Linked DNA regions of Homo sapiens. The protein of the gene in region 1 purifies or fractionates together with the protein of each later gene. This does not show direct contact. Each region holds a gene or a part of one and is shown in the gene's direction. Other genes may lie near its edges.

What was found.
Region 2: the proteins of SLC16A12 (region 1) and UGT8 purify together in Homo sapiens (affinity purification with mass spectrometry; one large-scale study listed by BioGRID and IntAct). This does not show direct contact.
Region 3: the proteins of SLC16A12 (region 1) and MFN2 purify together in Homo sapiens (affinity purification with mass spectrometry; one large-scale study listed by BioGRID and IntAct). This does not show direct contact.
Region 4: the proteins of SLC16A12 (region 1) and MAIP1 purify together in Homo sapiens (affinity purification with mass spectrometry; one large-scale study listed by BioGRID and IntAct). This does not show direct contact.
Region 5: the proteins of SLC16A12 (region 1) and DNAJC16 purify together in Homo sapiens (affinity purification with mass spectrometry; one large-scale study listed by BioGRID and IntAct). This does not show direct contact.

What each region holds. Positions count from the first base shown.
Region 1 is NC_000010.11:89,525,577-89,529,095, reverse strand, and holds part of SLC16A12 (monocarboxylate transporter 12), read left to right. Parts: intron 1-3,519. UniProt on the Homo sapiens protein: Functions as a transporter for creatine and as well for its precursor guanidinoacetate. Transport of creatine and GAA is independent of resting membrane potential and extracellular Na(+), Cl(-), or pH.
Region 2 is NC_000004.12:114,622,804-114,626,322, forward strand, and holds part of UGT8 (2-hydroxyacylsphingosine 1-beta-galactosyltransferase precursor), read left to right. Parts: exon of another isoform or gene 1-75; 5' UTR 76-77; coding exon 78-899; intron 900-3,519. UniProt on the Homo sapiens protein: Catalyzes the transfer of galactose to ceramide, a key enzymatic step in the biosynthesis of galactocerebrosides, which are abundant sphingolipids of the myelin membrane of the central nervous system and peripheral nervous system.
Region 3 is NC_000001.11:11,979,197-11,983,246, forward strand, and holds the start of MFN2 (mitofusin-2), read left to right. Parts: upstream 1-1,247; 5' UTR 1,248-1,288; intron 1,289-2,613; exon of another isoform or gene 2,614-2,657; intron 2,658-2,773; 5' UTR 2,774-2,918; intron 2,919-3,326; exon of another isoform or gene 3,327-3,394; intron 3,395-4,050. UniProt on the Homo sapiens protein: Mitochondrial outer membrane GTPase that mediates mitochondrial clustering and fusion. Mitochondria are highly dynamic organelles, and their morphology is determined by the equilibrium between mitochondrial fusion and fission events.
Region 4 is NC_000002.12:199,961,599-199,964,635, forward strand, and holds the end of MAIP1 (m-AAA protease-interacting protein 1, mitochondrial isoform 1 precursor), read left to right. Parts: intron 1-182; coding exon 183-330; intron 331-367; exon of another isoform or gene 368-509; intron 510-2,134; coding exon 2,135-2,213; 3' UTR 2,214-2,519; downstream 2,520-3,037. UniProt on the Homo sapiens protein: Promotes sorting of SMDT1/EMRE in mitochondria by ensuring its maturation.
Region 5 is NC_000001.11:15,533,343-15,536,861, forward strand, and holds part of DNAJC16 (dnaJ homolog subfamily C member 16 isoform 1 precursor), read left to right. Parts: intron 1-894; coding exon 895-961; intron 962-3,132; coding exon 3,133-3,472; intron 3,473-3,519. UniProt on the Homo sapiens protein: Plays an important role in regulating the size of autophagosomes during the formation process.

The sequences.
Region 1 (3,519 bases):
GGAGAACAGAATGCTGCTTCTTCAGGCAGTGATAGTTCAACCAGACAACTATCAAAAACCAGCCTTAATCATCATTATTAAATAGTTATGAATAGGGGTAGCCCAAACTCACAGGCATAAATGATATAAAAAATAAATGGTCTGTTCAGGTTGACACCTGACAACCTAGTATCCATAAATCAGTTGATTGAAGACTCTGTATCAATGGTTCTCAACCCCACCTACACATTAGAATCACCTGAGGAAGGAAAAAAACTGGTACCAATGTCCTACTCTGAAAAATTCTGATTCCGTAGGTCTGAGATACAGGGCTAGGGTATTGATAGTTTTTAAATCTCTCTGGTGAATCTCATGTACAGCCAGGGTTGAGAAACTATGGACATATGTAATAATAATTTTGTGCCTCTTTAGAAAAAAATTTTATTGAAACATAAAATTTCATGTGTGGTATATTCTTAACATATAATGGAAATTTTTTGTGTGTGCATTTTCTCTATAGAGGGCCCATTCATTATATGGAAAGCTTTTCCCAATGGTTGAATGAATGTTCAGTGATTTTTTTTCTTCTCTGTGGAATTCACTAGGCTTATGTGTATAAGATGTCAAAACAACCAAATCAACACAATTGATATAATTACTGTCAACCAATGAATTAATTAACCAACTATTTTCAAGTTTTTGATGATTGTGGTACCATATGGGTATTTTTGTTTAGGACAATAATTTGGCCTTTTACTCTACAACAATAATGTGTTTCCTCTAAAATACTTACAGATGTGTCCTTTATTATGTGTTTCTTTAAATTGATTGAGTTGTCAACCTTAATACTCAAACTTTCTCTGAAAACTTTCTGTTTTTATTCAATTGCATCAAATTAAATAAAAAGGGTTATCTTGGGACAGGGTCTCTCTTTGTCACCCAGGCTGGAGTGCAGTGGCCTTATCAGGGCCCACTGCAGCCTCGACCTCCCAGGCTCAAGCAATCCTCCCATCTCAACCTCCCAAGTTGCTAGGACTACAGGCATGAGCCACCATGCCTGGCCAGACTTTTATATAAGAAAGATATTATATAGGACTCTTACGTAAGAAAGATAGGAGTTTAAACCTTGCCCTATGTGACTTCAACAAAGTATGATTAATTTTAGAGCTTTCCTTGTCATTAGGATTTATTGTTTTTGAGAAAATGTGGTGAGGTGACTGATACAGATTCTGAAGATTTATCTAGTAGACTACTCCTACTTAGAATTCACCTCTTTTTTTCTTTTCTCTCTCTCTCTCTCTCTTTTTTTTTTTAAGAGATGGGGTCTCACTGTCACCCAGGCTGGAGTGCAGTGGTGCAATGATGGTTCATTGCAGCCTTGAACTACTAGGCTCAGGCAGTCCTGCTTCAGCCTCCAAAGTAGCTGGAACTACAGGTGGGCACCACCATGCCCAGATAAATAATTTTTTTTTTTTTTGTAGAAATGGAAATGGAGTCTTACTATGTTTTTCCAGGCTGGACTTAAACTCCTGAGCTCAAGCAATCCTCTCTCCTCAGCCTCCCAAAGTGCTGAGATTATAGATGTAAGCTACCATGCCAGCCCCTTATTTTTTTAGTTTTATTATTTTTTTTTTGAGGTGGAGTCTCACTCTTTCACCCAGACTGGAGTGCAATGGCATGATCTCGGCTTGCTGCAACCTCTGCCTCCTGGGTTCAAGCGATTCTCCTGCCTCAGCCTCCTGAGTAGCTGGGATTACAGGCACCTGCCACCACACCCGGCTAATTTTTGTATTTTTAGTAGAGACGGGGTTTCACCACGTTGGTCAGGCTGGTCTCAAACTTCTGACCTCAAGTGATCTGCCCACCTCGGCCTCCCAAAGTGCTGGGATTACAGGCATGAGCCACCACGCCCTACTCAGCCCCTTATTTTTTTTAATTTGTTCTTATTTGGTTTTAATGCTCATGGAGATTCTCACCCACTGTTACCAGTTAGCTTCCCCAAATTACACTTTAACTGTTGATTTTGTAATAAAAATAAATAAATTTTTATCCACGAATAAAAATCTTAATGGATTTTGGCCAGTAGATTTTAAACTGTATTTTGCAAATTCCTGGGAGTATCAGGGAGCACCTCTGGAGCTGTGTTACAGGGCATGAGGGCAATGGGTGGCAGACCGATGTCCAGCTTCCAGCTTTGGGCTCCTTTCTGGTGGCCCCTTCTGCTATCTGAGTAGGTGTTCTGTTCTTGATTTCTTAATGGATTTTGGCCAGTAGATTTTAAACTGTATTTTGCACATTCCTGGGAGTATCAGGGAGCACCTCTGGAGCTGTGTTACAGGGCATGAGGGCAATGGGTGGCGGACCGATGTCCAGCTTCCACCTTTGGGCTCCTTTCTGGTGGCCCCTTCTGCTATCTGAGCAGGTGTCCTGTGCTTGATTTCACATATTTGGTTTCCAAGTAAGATTTTATTTGAACAAAGGATTTCTTGGCCAAAACAAGTTTGTAAGTGATTGGGCCACATGTTTCTAAGTTTCTGCTTCCTGTTCCTTGCCAAATTTGTTTTATATTCTGGCAGCTCCTAATTGTTTCAAGCTACGACTGCGGATCTGTGTTGAAAAGCCTGGGAAATCTTCGGTCTTAATAACTTTATAACTTTGATGCCTGTGGGGAGAGATAACCAAGTAAGCAGTTAGATATTTACAGCAAGAACTATAGCTTGGGAGTTATCAGTATAGGGACTCAGTTCAAGTTATATGTCTCCCCAGGAGAGTGTTTCTAGAGAGGGGTGAGATGGGTCAAAGATCAAATTCTGGGGAATAGCTATGCTGGGCTAAGTGCCGTTCTCTGTATTCACGTTAACCAAATGTGCATTTTGGTTAATGAAGTTTGCATTTCATATTTTAATTTTATAATTCCCCCATGTACAGTTGTACATAACTGCCAAAAGAGTTGATGCATGGGTATATATGTGTGTGGGGGCGGGGGGTAGCATGATGGGGTCAGAGGACAGGGCTTGGAAACCAGCCAAGGATGCTTATCCTTTCTTTGAAAACCCTGCATCATGCACAAATCACTGGGGCCCCTTCTACATGCAGGTTGAAGTGCACAATGAGAGGATAAACTTGGGTGGTTACCTAGTGAATTTGGCAATTCAGACAGCTGTTGTGGCATTTTTTGACATAAAATTATTTGTTAAGAAATATCACGGTTTCTTACCTTAAAAAATCCAGACATTTCCCCCGTATCTTAGTTCTCCCTTGTGGAACTTGAATAGTGACTGCTAGGTTTTGGGTGTGATCCCATGGACGTTTAGGTCAAATCCCCACTCCACATGGGTCTGTAGCTAATTGTGTTTTATTGACACAGACTCCACCCTCAATGCCAGCCGGCTCTTTGGTAAATTTAGTCATGAGGAACACCTGGCAACAGCTACTAACTTAATTAAAAAATTCAAAAACACTCTTAGAAAAAGGCAGAGTACCTAGATAAAGAACAAATAAATACTCATAAATAAGATACTTGTTAAAATTATTTTACCG
Region 2 (3,519 bases), on another chromosome or scaffold:
AATGCTTTGTGATTGCTTGTTTTGAATGGTGAGCATTGTATTTTGTTTTAAGTTGTTTTCTGGTTGTTATTACAGCTATGAAGTCTTACACTCCATATTTCATTCTCCTGTGGAGTGCTGTTGGGATAGCGAAGGCTGCCAAAATCATCATCGTGCCGCCAATTATGTTTGAAAGCCATATGTACATTTTCAAGACGCTAGCCTCAGCCTTGCACGAGAGAGGCCACCATACAGTGTTCCTCCTCTCTGAAGGCAGAGACATCGCCCCATCTAATCATTACAGCCTCCAGCGCTACCCAGGGATCTTTAACAGTACCACCTCAGATGCTTTCCTACAGTCCAAGATGCGGAATATTTTCTCTGGGAGATTGACAGCAATCGAACTGTTTGACATACTGGATCACTATACTAAGAACTGTGACCTGATGGTTGGCAACCATGCCCTGATCCAGGGTCTGAAGAAAGAAAAATTTGACCTGCTGCTGGTGGACCCTAATGATATGTGTGGATTTGTGATAGCTCATCTTTTAGGGGTTAAATATGCTGTATTTTCAACTGGCCTTTGGTATCCTGCTGAAGTGGGTGCTCCTGCTCCATTAGCATACGTCCCAGAGTTTAACTCACTCCTCACAGACCGCATGAACTTGCTGCAAAGGATGAAAAATACCGGTGTTTACCTCATTTCCAGATTAGGGGTCAGCTTTCTGGTTCTTCCCAAATATGAAAGGATAATGCAGAAGTACAACCTGCTGCCAGAGAAGTCCATGTATGATTTGGTTCATGGGTCCAGCCTGTGGATGCTGTGTACTGACGTAGCACTGGAATTCCCAAGACCCACTCTGCCTAATGTTGTTTATGTAGGAGGAATCCTAACCAAACCAGCCAGCCCACTACCAGAAGTAAGGTTTGCCGAATTCCTTGGTAATTCTTTTTTAATGTAAAAGTCAATTTTGATTTTTGGAAGAGATATGATTTGTTATTTATATATATTGTATATATACAGTACACTAAAAGGTGATTAGGACATGGGGCCTCCAAAGTCCCTTTATGTGGGTCCACCACTTCCCTGGGAAACATTCCTGCTTTGAATGAGCATTTCTGTAATACTGAAAAGACCACTATGCCATATGGTCAATAGACTGCCTGGGAAGTAGTTTTCTGATTAAGTAATAGTTATAGTATGTGAGGAGAATATAGTTAAATGGTTAATTTTAATGAGTATAAGTGATTTTATCTTTAATTACACACAGAATCCCCTCTGTTCTGCCCCAAATAGCACAATTAACAGGTATATATGTTTAGCTTCAGGTCAGTGAACAGAGGTTCTTCTCTGGGAGGTTATTACCACTAGTTTATGTCCAATAATGAAAGTGAGGTGGTAACTTCCATCAAAGTAGGGAGTTGGTTAATTTAAGCTAGTAAGTAAATGTAATGGTTTTAAGGAAAGCATGCTCTATTGCAATTTCATTTCAATGATGGAATCAATGGCACTTTAAGAAACTCTGTTCTCTATGTGAAACTTAAATTCTTTTTATTGATTGAGCCAACAGTAAATCCCTTGGTATTCTGTTCACCATCCTTGTTTTTTATTAGGTATCCCACATTAGCAGAAGCCATACACATACCTATTGTTGTAGTGAGTTTTCTAACCTCAGATTGAATCTCTCAATTTAACCTCAACATCAGATCCCATTTACTAGGAAGTGTAGGGCTTGTTGCAGGACTTTATTCAAGTTACTTTTAATCCTACCTCTGGAAATAGCCACTCAAAACAATTTTGCTAAATTGTTGATTTCTAGTTCTGGTACTACATATTAAAAATTCTATCAGGGCCTTGATGAAGAGTAAATCCAGATTTTCTCGTATAGATGAGGACAATCACATGGCTGAATTTTGTCGTGAGGCAATAAGGTGATTAGAAATATACGACCTGTAGGCTTTTCTAATATGGCCATTAGAGTTATAATTAATAAATAATATATCGATATATTTCATATAACATGGAAACAGAAATGGCCTGTACACCCACAGCATTTCAAATATATACAGCCACTGGAGGCCATGAGGGCACACTTGTTCTCTCTGACGTCAACTGTAAAGGATAGGGATTAATCTCAGCTTATCTTAGCCATTCTTGAATTTATCCAAGCTCATTTTGAATCCTCAGATCTTCTCTGGCAGAGTCACCTTCCTAAAGGTAGCTAAAATCAGATTTTAGAAGTAGCTTCTAAAAGATTTGGTAATCAAGGTGTGTCTTTACCTTAACTGAGTCATTTAAAATGTTACACAAATCATCCTTGTTCTCTCTAGGTCATCATCTTTTCCGAGCTAGAACACTCCCCTTCTGCCAGCTCCCTTTGGTTTTCATCTGGGTGATGTCTCTCTTCTTCAGTCACTTGATTGAAGAAGAAGTATATGATGAAAAGGAGCTGGACGCGGTGTCCCATGCCTGTAATCCCAGCACTTTGGGAGGCCAAGGCAGGAGGATCACTTGAGTCCAGGAGTTCGAGACCAGCCTGGACAACATAGTGAAACCTTGTCTCTACAAAAAATAAAAATTAGCTGGGTATGGTGATGCATGTCTATAGTCCCAGCTACTCAGGAGGCTGAGGTGGGAGGATCACTTGAGTTCAGGAGGTCGAGGCCGCAGTGAGCTGAGATCACACCACTACACTCCAGCCTAGGTGTCAGAGTGAGACCCTGTCTAAAAAAAAAAAAAAAAAAAAAAAAAGGAATGTCCTGTCCTGATTGCCTTTTCTTTCCTTCCAGTTCCTGCTGTATATTTGTCTTGAGTTGCAGCAACTTGAATGACACAGTATAAGTGTAGGAAAATATTTTATGTTTTATTTTCAATACTCTACCTTTCAAAAAGATGCATAGCATGTGATAATTTTTTTTCTACCATCCAAGCATTTTTTTCTGTCATGGATTCCTCTGCACACAGATGTCCTTACTAGTGTCACTATTTTGTTTTACATGAAAAACATCTTTTTAGTGGTTTTTGGTGCTCGACATAAGGTATTACTCAAAATATCCTTTAATTTGCCATAATTTCTCATTTGACACTGGCTTGACTTTCTTTGTGGAGTTCTTTTTCCTCTGGGCTATTTGTAGTGGTTCTTTTGAAATGCGTTTTTTGTTTACAAAGTTTGCTTTGTGCCAGTTAGTTTGGTTGCATGCACAGACATGGCATGTGTGCATGTGTTATATATAGTATGTGGACATAGATAAGTATATTATTATTATTGGAAGTCTATTAGATTATCATTGTGAAGGGCTGTTTTCATTTCAGAATGTTATTTATAGTTTTTGAGCAGGGAGTATTTTGAAGAATGATGTGCAGTACTCTTTCAGGTATTCCTTATTCTGGTGTGGTTTTATATGCTTATGAACACATGTTCCCACTGAGATTTTTCTAGTAGATTTATTTGAGATAATAAACTGTACCTTTTCATTCTAAAAGTTAATGAGTTTCTCAAATGCCTGTATTATTTACAGGGCATTGTTGTGACAGTAACA
Region 3 (4,050 bases), on another chromosome or scaffold:
GTGAGCCGTGATTGCACCACTGCACTCCAGCTTGAGTGAGAGTGAGACTCTGGCTCAAAGATAGATTTTTTTTTTCTTTTTTGAGACGGAGTCTCTGTTGCCCAGGCTGGAGTGCAGTGGCATGATCTCGGCTCACTGCAACCTCCACCGCCCGTGTTCAAGCGATTCTCCTGCCTCTTCCTCCCGAGTGCACTATCATGCCTGGCTAATTTTTGTATTTTTAGTACAGACGGGGTTTCACCATGTTGGCCAGGCTGGTCTTGAACTCCCGATGCACCCGCCTCGCCCTCCTAAAATGCTGGAATTACAGGCTTGAGCCACCGCGCCCGGTCGATATTTTTTTTTCCTAAAAATTGAGATAGTTTAACAGCCTTTTTTGTCCTAAGTCTTATAGCGCATCTCCGTTTGCACTGGCTCAGGACTCGAGAGCCACACGTGGCTAGTGCCTACTGTTCTGGCGCGCTCAGGCTTGGAGCCTTCTCTGCGGAGGCCAAGTCCTGCAAGGGATCTGTTTGCTGCGGTTTCCTAGTAGTGTCTGCCGCATCACTGGGGCCCGGTGATCTGGGTAACCATGTGAGCTTGGGTAACCTCTCCTCTCCCTCTCCTGGGACTGCTGTGGACGTTAAATACAGCGGTGGATGTTAGAGACGCAGTTCAGTCACTGGCATTGATTCGCCGTTGTTGCTGCTCTTCTTTCCTCAAAGGCGACTGAAGGGCAGCAGGCCCATGCTCGCTTCTGTCTGCCCGATGAGTCACTTCACCCTAGGCCTGGCCCTCTAGAGAACACTCCTCTAAGATTACAGAATGCAAATCTGGATTCCAGAGCTGGCAGAGGCCCCAGGGTCAGGCTCTAGGACAACCGGCGAAAAAGCGGGAACCTCTACTCCACGCCCTTGGTTTTTCGCCCCTTGACAGCTTGAGGCTCCGCCCCGCTTTGCCCCGCCCCCCCAGCTCCGGCCGACGCCCACCGGAACTACAGCCCCCATGATGCAGTGGGAGTCCGAGCCTCTGCGTCGTCCGCTTGGGACGCGCCGGCGGAGGAGTGGCGCGCGGAGGAGTGGCGCGCTGAGACGCCGCTCGAAGCGCCGAGTCGCGGGGCAGCAGAGGCGTAAGGAGTAGGCGGGGCGAGCCGGCTGGGCTCAGGGTCCACCAGCTCACCCGGGTCGAGGGGCAATCTGAGGCGACTGGTGACGCGCTTATCCACTTCCCTCCTCCCGCCTCCCCCTGGGGTGGCGCTCGCTGGTGACGTAGTGAGTGTGATGGCCGCCGCGAGGCCGGGAAGGTGAAGGTGAGAGGGCGAGCAAGCCGGGGTGGCGGGGACTGGCCCGGCCCGGCCCGGCGAGTCCTGAGCAGCTCGGCGTGGGCCGACGGGATTCTGGGGCCACGGGGGTCTGGGATGCAGTCAAGCGGGGTCCCCACTCTCCGGCCTCGCCGCCGGGCCCTCCCCGGCCCTGAGAGGAGGGGGCGGGCCACGGGACCTGGGACTGGTCGGTGGGGTCCCCTGTAGCTTCTCATCGCCCCCGCCTTTCCACCCTTCACGGCCATGTTCTACCCCTGCCCCTTCTCTATTTTTCATCCTGTCTTCATTTTGCCAGCATTTACTCAGCACCTGATAGGTGTCCACGTTCACCGCGGGAGCGCCCTGCCATCCCCACTTTGGGCAGTTACTGCCTTCTCGTTCAGCCCTGTTTACTTATATGACTTCTCACCGGACTGTAAGGCCCTGGAGGGCAGGACTGTTTCTTATCCATTTCTAACGTGGCGCCTGACACACACAGAGAAGGCACACAGAAAATGTTGAATAAATAGCTGTTAAGACGCACGAAGGCAGAACTGCCCGTTACCCCCTCTCGTAATCCTTCATTGCCCTCTTTAAATTCTCAATCATCTCTCTCTCTTCTACCCAGAAAAGGGCTCTGGTTATCTCTTTTCTACCCAGAAAAGGGCTCTGGTTATCCGCCTCTGGTGTCCCAAGGTTTGGGGCTTGGGGGAGGAAGGCAGCTCAATGTAGTTAAAAAAGGAAGGAGGCCGGTCGCAGTGGATCACACCTGTAATCCCAGCACTTTGGGAGGCTGAGGCGGGCGGATCACCTGAGGTCAGGAGTTGGAGACCAGCCTGGCCAACATGGTGAAACCCCGTCTGTGCTAAAACCAAAAACTAGCCGGGCTTGCTGGCACACGCCTGTAATCCCATCTACTCAGGAGGCTGAGGCAGGAGAATCGCTTGAACCCGGGAGGCGGAGGTTGAGCCGAGATCGCGCTGCTGCACTCCAGGAGCTTTGGAGTCAAAGGGAGCTAATATTTCAGATCCCAGCTTAGACAAATCTTCAAGTATTCCAGCCCTCTGTCCCACAGAATAGAGAATTAAGTGAGATACTTTACAGTAGCTGAACACATTGGCTTTCAGTCAGTTCTTCTGTTCCTCAATAGTCAGCTGTTCCACAGTCCTCAAGCCCAGTTTTGTTCCTAGTTTTGCTCTGTCCTCTTCTCCCCTCTCTGGATGTACCTTTCCCAGGGCTCCTGCAGGGACCTCCGTGGTGCCTCAAACCCGCACATGGCGGAATACGTGTGCACAGTCAGGATTGGTCCCACACCTCTGCGTTTTTTTCCCCAGGGCACTTCCTCACATGCCAGCGCAACTCCCCAATACCTCAATGAGTAAGCTTCCCTCAGGGATGAGTTTGTTTGGCTTGAAACCTGATTAGACATGTTTTGTACACCAGTGTTTTTTTTTTTTGGACACCGGATCCATCTCCCTTTTCTTTTCTAATAAGTCAGGACTGGTGGAGTCAACACAGTCAATCAATAGCCAACCTCAACCTGAGACAGGACAGAAGAGAACTCAGAATCTTTTTGTCTTTTGGACTTCAGCCATGTCCATGATGCCTACCCTGTGAAGATCTCTCACCATCCAAAAAAGTAAGTAGTAGCTGTGACTTCTGGCACCCTGGATTTGAGCTGAGTGGACAGGGGTGTGCTCTCCTGGACCTCTGGTGGCAAGTCTCTTGAATGGCATCCTCTTTGTATAGAGCCACAGCTTTCTAACTTGTGTTGAAAAACTACCGTATCTTTTACTTCCGTGAAGGATTTCGCTGGTTGCTTAGAGAGCCTGTTTAAAAGTTGACAGTTCAGAAGTGGCTGGGATCTCTTGGGCTCCCTGAAGAGTTAGTCTCTGTCTCCCTCATTTGGTCTCTGCTGTGCTGGCTCTTCCCCATCTCGGCCCAGCACAGGTTGGCTCCTTGTCACTGCTCTTTTAAGACTCTGCTCTGTCCCCTTTACCCTGTATACTCTTTTTGTTTCGATTTCTCAGCTTCTCCTCTTTTCCAGTTGTGCCAGCAGACGATCCGTGGATCCATTTTATTTTCCCTGCTAGGAGTTGCTGTACATAACACTGGGTAAGGAGGTGGTGTGGATTCAGGGACTGTGCTTGGGATCCAAACACACCTTGCAGTGAATTTTGCTACTGCTGTCTCTACACCCAAGATACCTAATACTCCTCAACGAATAGCCTAGGTTGAGGCAAAGCTGTTGACCACCTTGGAGGGCTAATAGCAGTTTCCATTTAGAACTGGGTTCATTTCTGGTCTTAGGTTAATATTTATTAATACTGTGCCCTGGCACTTTTTAGGGGTAGGGGCAGGAGAGTACCAGAAAGAGTGGGCTTTTCCCTAAAGTGTGATCCTCGGGATTTTAAAAGCTATTACACAGAAGGGTTTTTTCATTGATTATATTTGTGAAATGCTGAATTCAACACAGTTAAACTAGTGTCTTTACAACAAGGCTTCCTTCCCAAACTCTTTTGCTGTGCTCACGTGCTCCACTGAGGAAAATGGTAGCATATGGTGTTTTTTGTTTGTTTGTTTGTTTTTTGTTTTTTTTGAGACAGAGTCTTGCTCTGTCACCCAGGCTGGAGTGCAGTGGCGCGATCTTGCAGTGGCGTGATCTTGGCTCACTGCAAGCTCTGCCTCCCAGGTTCACACTATCCTCCTGCCTCAGCCTCCCGAGTAGCTGTACTACAGGTGCATGCTGCCATGCCTGGCTAATTTTTTGT
Region 4 (3,037 bases), on another chromosome or scaffold:
AAGACAATTTTCTAAAAATAAAATAGTATCAATACAAGTATTTTAAGTCACATCAGAATAAGCACAAAATTTGACCTGTAACAACTGTATAACTGCTGCCAATTTCTGATTTCATTTTGTTTATATGGATGATAGATTATTTTGATTTGTATTCGTATGTGTGTATATGTTTTTTCTCTAAGGAAGGAAGTTTGTTAACATCCTGATGTGCTTTTGGTATCTAACCAGTGCCAACATCCCCAGTGAAACTTTAAGAGGAGCCAGTGTATTCCAGGTTAAGTTGGGGAATCAGAATGTGGAAACTAAACAACTTCTTAGTGCAAGCTATGAGTAAGTTTAATCAGATTTCATTGTTTCCTTTCTTCAGAAAATGGAAGGTAGTGTGAAGGTATGAAAACTAAGAGATCTTTAGGAAGAAAAGAATTGAAATTTGACAAGTTATTTATGAAGAGAAAAGGTCAGAAAGACACACTGGATATGAAACAGGAGAGTTAAGAAATTAGAAAGAGGTAAAGTTGCTGAATTTAATTAAATGATGTTTTAGCTGTCTATTGCTGCTTAACAAACTACCCCCAAATTCATTGGCTTCAAACAGCCATTGACTTTGCCTGCTATTTCACTGCTCAGAAATTTTGGATAGGCTCAGTTAGGGGGTTTTCTCTGCTTCACCTGGCATCAACACGAGTGGCAGGAGCTGGAGGATTCATTTCCACAGTGACTTCTTAACTCGCATGGGTGGCACCTTGGTACTCCTTGGCTTCTGCATGACTCTGTATTCTCCAGGGCCACTCTTTGTGGCTTGGACTTGTGGTAGTTTCAGACTAGTCATATCTTTCATATAGTGGTTGAATTCTAGGAGGCAGAAAATGGAAGCTGCTAAACCAGTAAAGGGCTATGCCCAGAATTAGAACATCAGTTCTGCCATAGTCTACTTGTCAAAGCAGTCAAAGGATCTGTATAGTTTAAAGGGTGTAGAAAGACTCCCCCATTTTTTGGGGCAAAAACCAGCAAGGCCACATAGCAGAAGAGCACATGGGAGGGGAGATATGGTTGTGGTCATTTTTGGAAAATAAAATCTGCCATAATTGGTACATGAACAATTTATTCACTAGACATCTGTTGGTCATCTGTGTGCCCACATGCTCTGGTAGAGGTTCAGATACAAAGTTGAAGGGATACTGCCCTTAAGCACATACTGTATAGTAGGAAGTTAGCAAGTTACGTAAAAGAGACATTATATTGTATTTTTATGCGAATAAAATCTAGAACAGTGAACTGCTGGAGCAAGTCAGTGAAGATATAATTTAACATTTATTAAAAAAATATGTTGCCAGAGTTACACAAATCTGCTTCAAAATAACAAACCCCAAAAATGACCTAAGAAATAAAATGTATTCTGTTTTACTAAGGTAAAAGAGAATTATATCCTCATTTTTTTTTTGCTCTTCTTAAAAGAAATGTGTTTTTTTAAATTTTGCTTTATTTGTAATTACCCAAAATATTCTATATATTTAAATACTTAATTTAAATCTACTGAATTGCCTGTTAAGAAATAATTTTTAAAGAGCACTGTCGTCAATACTAAACTTTATCTTTTCTGATGTTTCTTACTAAGACTATGGGTACTTCATAAACATTGTTATTTTCAAGATTGATTTAATGTATGTAAACTAAATTCCACTATTTATTCCTAAATTGGTAACAGTGCTATTTGAAAAATAGCTTTTTGCCTGTATCCTAGGTTATGTATTTAAAGTGCTGTTTGCATCACCAGAGTCCAGTTTATCTGTCCTCATATTAGGCATGTGTTATAGCTAGTATTTAACACATACTAGCTATATGTGTTATTTATATAACACATATATCCAAGTTTCTCTTAGGGGCTGGTAGATGTTGAATATAGATTAGTCCATTAAAAATACTTACATTACTTGAGAATGTACTTCAATTTTGTGGGTATATTTATTGTGATTGAATGGGTAGGTTAAACTTTTTTTTGTTTTGATTTTGATTTAATATTAACCATTATCTTGTTGCCAAAAATTCTTCTAAATATACACTTGCAAATTACATAGTTATCTAACACATACTTGGACTGATGTAAGATTTACATTATTTGCAATGTCTTTCCTAGGTTTCAGAGGGAGTTCACACAAGGAGTAAAGCCTGACTGGACCATTGCACGGATTGAACACTCAAAATTATTAGAATAATTTTCTTGGAAAAATCAGCTTATGGACTTTAGCAGTTGCTGTGAAAAACTAAGGAAGAAAAATTTTGGGGTCATTTGATCTTCACTTAATCTAAGTCTGTGAATTACTTTTATATTATTTTGAAATACTCCTTGCAGTATATTGGCATGATACAGTAAAAGCATTTTCCACAGATTGTTATCACCTTCTTTAAAAGAAGTCAAAATTTAAAAAATACAATAGCACGTTGTTGGTGTCATATTCAATAACATTTCCAATGCTACATATAATTTTATAGACATAATAAAGAAGGTATTGAAAAAACTACTTACAAATTTCTTTATATATTTTTTAAATTGTTTGAGAAACAGGGTCTTGCTCTGTCTCCCTGGATGAAGTCCAGTGGCATGATCATAGTTCACTGTAACGTCGAGCTCCTGGGCTTGAGCGATCCCCCTGCCTCAGCCTTCAGAGTAGCTGGGACTACAGGCATCCACCAGCATGGCTGGCTAATTTTAAAAAATTTTTATAGAGATTTCACTATGTTGCCCAGCTGGTCTTGAACTCCTCAAGTGGTTCTGCCTCGGCCTCCCAAAGAGCTAGGATTATAGGCATGAGCCACTGCACCCAGCCTACTTACACATTTCTAAATTAATAGTTCTTAAATATTTTATTTGTGGCTAATACATTTACACTTTTTTTTTTGACGGAGTCTCCCTCTGTTGCCCAGGCTGGAGTATAGTGGTATGATCTCAGTTCACTGCAACCTCCACCTCCTGGGTTGAAGCAATTCTCCTGCCTCAGCCTCCCTTGTAGCTGGGACTACAGGTGTGCACCACCATGCC
Region 5 (3,519 bases), on another chromosome or scaffold:
GAGGCCGGGCGTGGTGGCTCACGCCTGTATTCCCAACACTTTTGGAGGCCGAGACAGGTGGATCATTTGAGGTCAGGAGTTTGAGACCAGCCCAGCCAACATGGTGAAACCCCATCTCTACTAAAAATACAAAAATTAGCCGGGTGATAGTGGCGCAGGCCTGTAATCCCAGCTACTCGGGAGGCTGAGGCAAGAGAATCGCTTGAGCCTGGGAGGCAGAGGTTGCAGTGCGCCAAGATTGTACCACTGCATTCCAGTCTGGGCAACAGAGTGAGACCCTGTCTCAAAAAAAACAAAAAAACAAAAAAAACAGTGGCCTTGAAATCTTTATCCAGGTAAAAAGCAATCGTAATAATAACGAAAAATGTTCTAATTTGAAAGTCAGGCACAAGTGCAGTTTGAAACCTGATTGTTACTAAATGAATTTAGTCTATCCTAAAAGCTATTTCTCATGTCTACCTGTGTTATCAGAAGAAACAACAGCATTCTAGCATCCTGATATCATTCTAGCATTGGGATGAAACGTTGCCATCCTAGGAGAAGACATGGGTTCTTATGGATAAACGACTTAGCCTTCAGCCAGCTTTAGCAGTGTTTGGGAGCAGTGTACAGACATGCACCATTTCCCACCTTCCTCTGTGAAATGCTGCAGTATTATATGGTGCTTTGAAAACATGCCCTGCTGGAGTGCTTTGGGAAAAAATAGCCTGTTTCAAAGTTTCATTTATTATAGTCATGTAAAACAACTGATTGCCTCTATCATTTATTTTAAGAAACTTTCCTAACAAAATAGCCCTCCGTCTGCCTCTGTAGTGAACTCTGTGGACAAGGACATTAAATGACTGTGCATTAAAAGTTACATCCTTTCTCACCGCCTGCCTGTTTGTGTTTCAGGCATCCTGACAAAAACAAAGATCCTGGAGCAGAAGACAAGTTCATTCAAATCAGTAAGGCTTACGAGGTATCGTGTCCAGCTTTGTGATGCATCCATTAGCTCTTACAAAATATGCCTTAGGAGGTGATGAGTTTTGTAAAGTTGTCAGAAAGGTCATGTTCCCCATGCCCTTGATGCAGTTTCTAGATTATAATAGAGAGAACAGGCTGGATGCGGTGGCTCATGCCTGTAATCCCAGCACTTTGGGAGGCCGAGGTGGGTGGATCACGAGGTCAGGAGTTCGAGACCAGCCTGACCAACATGCTGAAACCCTGTCTTTACTAAAAATACAAAAAAAATTCGCCGGGCGTGGTGGCACGTGCCTGTAATCCCAGCTACTCAGGAGGCTTAGGCAGGAGAATTGCTTGAACCCGGGAGTGGGAGGTTGCAGTGAGCAGAGATCGAGGCCTGGGTAACAGAGGGAGACCGTCTCAAAAAATAAAATAAAATAAAAAATAATAGAACATATTTGGCCACATCCAGTATATTGGAACAAGTGCCTGAACACTTCAGCTCTTGGAAAAACTGGCCTATTTTAAAGGCTTTAACTAGAATTGTAGAATTACCCTGAGTATGTCTGTATGTGTCACTATTGCCTTCTTAGAAATATGCATTAAAGAATCACATACCAAATCGCCTATATTTATTAAAGTGGCACGAGGTAACAAATACATTTAAACACAAGATTTTCAGTAATTTTCCAGTATGTCAGCTCAAGTAGATTGGTCTGGAATATGCATCAAAGAGAATTCAGTGGCTTTCTGATTTGTATAGGGAATGCCCTTCAGCAGACAGTGCTTAGCTCATAGAATAACACGTCATCATTCTAAAACAGATTCCTGAATTTTAGACTTCAAAGTTATTTTGTAAAACAAAGTAAATTAACAGACAAGGCACTAGACTATAGCTATTTGGTGTTCATAGCTTTTCTTATCTTGGTTTGAATTGGTCCAACTCACCAGGTATGACCAGGTCAATTTTCTTGTCATTGAGCCCTGGTGATCAACATTATGTTATTTTATTTGTTTTGCTGAAGTGTTTAATGTTGTGGTAGTTTGAAATCTTTAATGCCAAGATGAGCATGAGTACCTAAACTGAAATATTTTAGTCTTGAATGTTCTTTAATGTTTCTCTAGTGAAAGAAGAGTTTCTCATTCTTTTGAATGACTGCATTTAGAATATCTAATCGGCTGGACCCAGTGGCTGCTCACGCCCTGTAATCCCAGCACTTGGGGAGGCTGAGGCATGCAGATCGCTTAAGCTGAGGAATTCAGGACCAGCCTAGACAACATGGTGAAAAATACAAAAATTAGCCAGGCATGGTGGCATGTGCTGATGGTCCTAGCTACTCAGGAGGCTGAGATGGAAGGTTGACCCTGAGAGATGGAGGCTGCAGTGAGCTGTGATCACGCCACTTCACTCCAGCCTGGGTGACAGAGTGAGACTCTATCTCGAAAAGAAAAAGAATATCTAATTATGTCATAATCTTTTTTCTTTTTTCTTAAGAGACAGTCTGTCTCTGTCACCCAGGCTGGAGTACAGTGATGCGATCACAGCTCACTGCAGCCTTCAACTACTGGGCTCAAGCAATCTCCCACTCACCTCACCCTCCCAAGTAGCTAGGACTATAGGCACGCACCACCATGCCTGGCCGATTTTTTTTTTTCTTTTTGTAGCAAAGTCATGCTATGTGGTCCAGGCTGGTCTTGAACTCCTGGCTTCAAGGGATCCTCCAAACCTTGGCCTCACATAATCGTGTCATAATTTTTACATTTCTTTTCTTTTCTTTTCTTTTCTTTTTTTTTTTTTTTTTTGAGACGGAGTTTCGCTCTTGTTGCCTAGGCTGGAGTGCAGTGGCACCATCTCGGCTCACCTCAACCTCCGCCTCCTGGGTTCAAGCAATTCTCCTACCTCAGCCTCCCGAGTAGCTGGGATTACAGGCATGCGCCACCACTCCCGGCTGATTTGATTTTTTGTATTTTTAGTAGAGACGGGGTTTCTCCATGTTGGTCAGGCTGATCTCAAACTCCCGACCTCAAGTGATCCACCCGCCTCAGCCTCCCAAAGTGCTGGGATTACAGGTGTGAGCCACCACGACTGGCTGCATTTATTTTCTTCCTATGTCTTTCAAGCTGCTTACAAAAAAGTCTTTTGGATGAACCTTTTGTTGTTGTTTAGATTTTTTTCTTCCTTTATAGATTCTTTCAAATGAAGAAAAGAGATCAAATTATGATCAATATGGAGACGCTGGAGAGAACCAGGGCTACCAGAAGCAGCAACAGCAGCGAGAGTATCGCTTCCGCCATTTCCATGAAAATTTTTATTTTGATGAATCCTTTTTTCACTTCCCTTTTAATTCTGAACGGCGGGACTCAATTGACGAAAAGTATTTATTGCACTTTTCACATTATGTGAATGAAGTGGTTCCAGATAGCTTCAAGAAACCCTACCTCATCAAGATCACCTCCGATTGGTGCTTTAGCTGCATTCATATCGAGCCTGTGTGGAAAGAAGTCATTCAAGAACTGGAAGAATTGGGTAAGATAATTTTATTCACTGAAAGATATTTATATAGATGACTTTTT